Linked DNA regions of Homo sapiens. The protein of the gene in region 1 purifies or fractionates together with the protein of each later gene. This does not show direct contact. Each region holds a gene or a part of one and is shown on either strand. Other genes may lie near its edges. The genes, in order: BSN and RIMS1.

Region 1 (2,903 bases):
GCCCTTTCCCAGAGGGCACCACGCAAGGGCAGAGCTGGGCGGCATCCACAGCCAGAGAGGCAGAGGCAAGAGCAGAGCCAGGCTGTGCCCGAGGGACCCCAGCTCTTGACTGCACCTGTTTCATGCCTCTCCTCTGTGGCTAGGAGGCTCAAAGGACTGTGAGCCAGGAGATCTGGGCTGGAGCTAGGGGGTCAATGGATGCTCAGGAAGAGCTGGGCCTTTGGCACTTGTGGTGAGAACAGTTGACAGTGGTCATCTGGAACTGTTCATATAAACAGTGGCTTCAAGCTAAGTTTCTTGTGAAGTTTCTCAATAGCAAATCTTACAGAAGGTCCTGTGTGACCCTCTCTGCATCTGTCCCCAGGACCTATGCTCCCTGCTCACCCCCTTCTCCAAAGCCCAAGCGTCCCGCTGCTCATCAGCTTTTTTACCATTGAGCCAGGAGTGCGGCAGGCAGTACCTGCCTGACCCTTCAAGGCCTGACCTTCGTCCAGAGTGCTCTGGTTTGCACCATGCATTTCTCAGGGGTCCGCATTTCTCATGCTTTTCTATAAGATCTACACACCCCTTCAGAGAGGGCTCCTCGCTCACCTCTGGTAGCTATGGATGGGACAGGAAGCTGCCAACCTTTGTGTTGGACTTAACACCCTTGCCTTTCTGGGACTTGGCCTCACCCCACCCATGGAATACCTGCCTCATCCCAAAGATCAGGTATGGGCTGAATGCAGCCATCTGAGCAAGGGCTGAGGGAAGCCATCACCTAACACCTCTGGCCACCCAGGACCAGGTCTGTGTGGGGATGTGCCTTGGAGACCAAGGCAATAGTCCTTTCCACTACAGGCCAGGGGATGGGACAAGAAGTAGGGAACAGGCAGGGAAATGTTAGGAGGTCAGCCTCCAGCAGGCCTAGTCTCAGGCTCTAAAGTACTGACTTTTCAGCAAATTTCCTTTCTGGCCAAGCCCTCTGAGTTTGAAATTCTGACATCTGCCACTCCTCATCCCCCACTGTACCCACAGGATACATCATCGCCCCTCTGTGAAGGTGGCTGGAGCAGGCCTCTGGTCCATGGACTGTCCTTCCTGGCCCTTGCATGGATGCAGTTGTGACTCTGGGGACAATGCAGCCAGAAGCTGAGGGACCAGCACTTGGTGCCTTGGAAAGTAGAGAGCAACAGACACATCTCCAAATGGGCAAGGAGTCTCTAGCATGCAGCCCAGGCCTTCTCCATACCCCTCTCCCCAGCATCATGAGCAAGGGCATTGCCTCCTCTCTCTGCTCACTTCAGGGCCCAGTGCACTCACTTCACAGTGACAGCCCTCCCCTACAATCCTTGGGCAGAGCATGTGGTCTGAGGGCCCACAGTGAAAGAACAGCAGTGGTGGCAACTATGCCTTGCCTTCTGGAGCCTGTAGGGAGTTTTCCAGGCAGGTCCTTTGCCAGGACAGCATGGTCCTGCCCTGTTGTCCCGTCTGCTCTCCTCTTACCCACCCCCATGCTGTAAATACTTGTCATCATGGACTCCAACAGGGTTAGAGGGACAGGCCTAATCAACTGAAACTCCTCGGAGATGCCATCTCTGTCTCCCTGGGTGCCAGCAGCCCTGCTGCCATGTGCACTGGGGTGGCACTGGAGAGCCATGGCAGTCGTGAGATATTGTATGTGTATGCACATGATCATGTGTGTATGTGCGTGCGTGCGTGCGTGTGTGTGTGTGTGTGTGTTTCTGCCTCATTCAGTTTCTGGGGTCAAATCAGCTCCTTCTCTCCAAGTGCACTACCCTGGAGAGTGGTGGCCACTCAATACCTTTTCCTCTAGCTTTCATGTCTTGTTTTTGCTTTCCCCTTCCTCCTCCCTCTCTCCCTTTCTTTCCTTCTCTCCTTCTTTATTTGAGGGGGGAAGAGTGCTGTACAAAGTCAAACAAACAAGTTTACAGTTGTAAGTGCAATGACCCGAGTCCTCCACATGACCTTGTGAATTGTGTGCTGTCCTTCTGTGCTCTGTGAGAACTCGTGGTACTTCAGTGTCCCTCCCCCTGTATTGTGACAAGGTAATTCTGTGGTATCAGAATAAAAGGACTTGATATAAACAACCTACAGACTGTTTCTGGGATGGTTTCTCAAGTGGGAAGGCTTAGCTGAAGGAGCAAATCCCCAAATTTGCGACAATCCTGTCCATGGTTAAAGGGAAAAGGATGGACAAAGTTGCAGAAGTGCTGGCACAGCACGGGGCTGAGTCCACACCAAGCCATCCAAAGACAATGGGCCCTCCACAAAGGTGCCCAAGGGGAGGTCCCAAGCTTGGACCTGGAGCAGGCAGTCAGTGCGCAGGCTGTTGAGGGACAGCACCTCCATGGCCTTCAGGTGTGTTGGCTGCATACACAGCTTTCTGGGACCTGGTTCCAGGGAGGCAGTGAACAAGTGCTGCCCCCTGGTGCTGCCAACAAGCCCTACACCTCTCTGCCTTGCTCCGAATTTTCCAACCCCCAAACTCTCACCGGCTGCCAGACCTTAGGCCTTCCTCAGATGGTCAGGAGTACCTCCTTACCGAAGTCACCCAGAGTTGCTAGACCTTTTTTTTTTTTTTTTTTTTTTTTAACACAGATAAACAGGAATCCCAGCTTCACCTCTGGCCCTCTCCCCAGAATTAACATTTTGATGCGTGTCCTTCTTTCCTGTTTGTTGTTCCAGTCTTCATTTTAAACAGAAGCCAGAAGGTGCAATATATCCTGTTTTCTAGCTTTCTGTTTATTTCCACGTTTATTTCAGGTACTTAAATGTTCGTCTTCCAGTGCTCAACCTCCAGAGAGATACACCATTAGTTCATAGCCAGTCTACCACACACAATCTAAGGAACAGGCACTATGTTCCCAGTGTTCCTATTATAAACAATGCTTGATGAACAT
Region 2 (3,426 bases), on another chromosome or scaffold:
AATCTTGTGTCTTGTAGACCAAACAAATGGATGATTTAATAGGGTAAAATTCAGTCAACTGTTTAAAAACTATAAATAACTGATGCATTCATGTCTCCAAACTCTTTATTGCCTCAAATTTTATGTTGATGTAACTGTGTTTACTTTGCTTTACAAGTTAAAGCCAGCGTGGTCTATAAAAAGTTAAGAGCTCTTAGAAAGACAAGACTAGATCACAAAAGTTATTTTACTACAATGCAAGATGAAAGTAGTGCTTACCAAGTGTTTCATGAGAGGCGATGATTATTAAATACATGAGCACACTTTCAGGTAAGAAAAAATAATAAAATAACCTAAAAAGTTAATAATGTCTCTTTGAATATATTATTTTGGATATCTATCTATATTTGAAGATACTTTTATTATCTAAGATTCTATTAAAGATAATTCAGTGTAAATGTAGTGCTTATTTTTTGTTAAATTGGTCTCCTCTAAACCAAAGTTATATAAATTAGTCATGGGTTCAGAAGAAAAAGATGGAAAGAGGAAATATACTATGACGAGAGACGCAGGAATCAATTTTTTGATATGTCACGTAACTTGAAATAATTTGGCAATTGGACAATAGAGTTGTCTCTTTTATTAGCACATTCAAACAGCAGCAGAAAACAACCTTCCATTTGATTCTTACTGAGATTTATTATTTTTAATAATGCCACTTTTCAGAAGTATAGTCATGTGCTCACTTAGACAGGCTGACGAAGTGAAAACTTGTATGTGATGCAAAGTACCCTTTGGGCCATCGATTAAGACATAATATAGTGCAGTGACAAGTCAAGTCAAATGCCCGCAGCAGACAACAAACCCCAGCCTCCCCTTCCCATGGCCTGGCTCCCATTTTGCACCATAGAACCCACAATGGAAATCTGGCAAGACATAGAACACATATGGCTACTGACTGACATGAAAAGTAAATTTTATTAAACATGTTTACATACATGAATTGGAATTTCATTTAAAAGCACAGGGGAGTGTTAAGACAAGTGGTCAAAATAGAAAGATACTACCCAATTATAATCAGTTGATTGTTGGCCACTAAGACAGAACGGAATCTAGTAGAAGTGCACCAATGCTTCAGTTCCTCCTACTCAGCATGGTGAGCAGTGGTCAATCTGTGCCCTGTGGAATGATGGGCAGATAATTCTGGCATGTGTAAATAATAATAAATAATTCACTTGGTGCAGGCAGTATGTCTATGAATTAAAACCTAGTGTGTACACAGTGTCTACATGTGTTACAGCCCCACAGTAGGAATCTACACCAAAATATTTATTAGAAGGAATTTGGTCCGTACTACATCACGTTTTCCGGAGGGTAAAAAATAAAGTCCATCTATAGACATTTCACCACAGACCCAGAGACTGAGTCTGGCTAAAACCTGCAAAATGTCTATAACAAAAGTGGATGGCTTAGATTTCTTGGTTATTTCGGTATAGTAATTAACAAGCAAACTGTACAAGTACATGCAACATACAAGCTGGCCTATGTGGAACTAACATACATTATTAAATAACCTTTTGTTTCTTTTCTTTTTAAAATTTTTTTTTTTTACAAAATGTGCATGCAGCTCTGAACAGTTCCAAGTCATGCTGCTCTATTTGTGTAATCACAAAAGTGGAGTGACTCATAAAAGGAGGGAGAACATATCAATGCACCTGCAGAGACTGCAGTTTGTAGCACATGTACAGAATGTCACAAGGGAAATTCAAGGCCAAGAGAAACTAAATGAAAATGCAAATTGAAAGTTCATTTTGTTTATTTTCCCCCCAAAAAGTAAGATACTTTGCATTAAAAAATCAAGCTTTGTGCTTGCATCAATCTCAAAGAAATGTAAACTAAAATTCAATAAAAACAATAGTTTAGTGCAGAATATTTCAACTGGAATTTCCAGTGGAATATTGAACAGCTCATACCATGCTCTTTCCAGGGCAGATGGATGTGTCTACACTGAGGTATGGCTGAGAAGCCTGGGCATAGCTCAAAGTGTCTTAGGCTCAAATCCATTCCTAGTCACCATTTTTGGGAAGTCAAAGTATGGTTTATACACATGAGCATTTTTTTAATATCAGGAAGAAAAAGGCATTACAAGGAGTGTTTTCAAAGTACAATTATGCAGTTAGTTTTAGTCCCCAGCATTAGTTGCAGATTGACTTCTTTAAAAGTCTTCCATGCAAAACAATGGAAACCATAAATTAATTTTCTAGAATGCAAACAGATAGGCTCTTCATTAAAAAAGTACTTCTGTGATTATTTATTTTGGAAGATAACTTTTTGTCTCTTGGGTATCCACACATAAGACTTTAAATAATTATAAAATGAAAGCTAGTGAAACCCTTCCTTGGCTTCACCTTATGTAGCTGTTTAACACTTTGGGGAGATGCTACAGAGACTACTTCAGCCCTTTTTTTTGGTGCTTTTGGAAAAAAGAAGGGAAGAATCTCTGTTAGCATCATGAGGCCTGTCATGACACAGCCAAAAAAAAACTAGTGGAAATAACAGATGTGGTGAAAACAAAACAAAAACTCAAGAAACGAAAACCAACAAACAACACACAAATAAACAAAACACACAAAAGAACAAAACAACTCAAACATCAGGGAAATAACACTGCTTGTGGTCTGTGCAGAAATGTGTAGAATACAACTTTTCACAGAGTGAGAGTTTCCAGTTTGTTCAATTTGGTGTGTGTGTGTGTGCATGTGTGTGTGTACGTGTATGCGTGGATTTAAAGTTTCCTCTTTTTCTATTTGTTAGAAGCATCAGTGACTCTCACCAGCATGTTGATTCTTCCTGTAAATTTGATAGATTGCCTTGTTCTGTCATATGAAGCCATGTTTTAAATAACAATTGGGACATATTATTGAAAAACTACTACAGGCAAAACACAAGTTGATTGTCTGTCTCCAACAATGCTTTCGATCATGAAATATCTGGTTCAGATTATTATCCTGAAAAGTAGAGTTTTATTGGAATGACTCTGGTATGAGTTCACTATGATCGAATACAGGGAGGCCCAGTTGAACTTTCCAGAGATGACTGGGAAGCCCGCCGGGTGAGGGGAGTGAGTGTGGGATCCACCAGTGAGGACGGTGGGAACAATTTGTACCATCCGATCACCATGCTGGACAGGTCGAGTTCTTCCAACAAGATCTGAGCCACACCCATAAAGCATTTGTGGTCCATTCTGCCATAGTCTCCCCAGACAATCACCTGCAGAGATAGAGAAATGCAACATTACCTGGACTTCTCTCTGCTTCACATTCGAAGGGCTCAAAGCAACTATGCTGTAAAAGTGGGCCAGTCAGTGAAGCAGAGGAAAAGAATAATGAATACAACTATCACCAAGGAGAAGGCACAGATAAGAAGATACACTAACCTTAAGGTGCT

The links.
Region 2: the proteins of BSN (region 1) and RIMS1 purify together in Homo sapiens (affinity purification with western blotting; 2 studies listed by BioGRID and IntAct, with this or other methods). This does not show direct contact.

Annotation. Positions count from the first base shown.
Region 1 is NC_000003.12:49,669,456-49,672,358, forward strand, and holds the end of BSN (protein bassoon), read left to right. Parts: 3' UTR 1-2,094; downstream 2,095-2,903. UniProt on the Homo sapiens protein: Scaffold protein of the presynaptic cytomatrix at the active zone (CAZ) which is the place in the synapse where neurotransmitter is released.
Region 2 is NC_000006.12:72,400,319-72,403,744, reverse strand, and holds the end of RIMS1 (regulating synaptic membrane exocytosis protein 1), read right to left. Parts: intron 3,250-3,426; coding exon 3,031-3,249; 3' UTR 600-3,030; downstream 1-599. UniProt on the Homo sapiens protein: Rab effector involved in exocytosis. May act as scaffold protein that regulates neurotransmitter release at the active zone.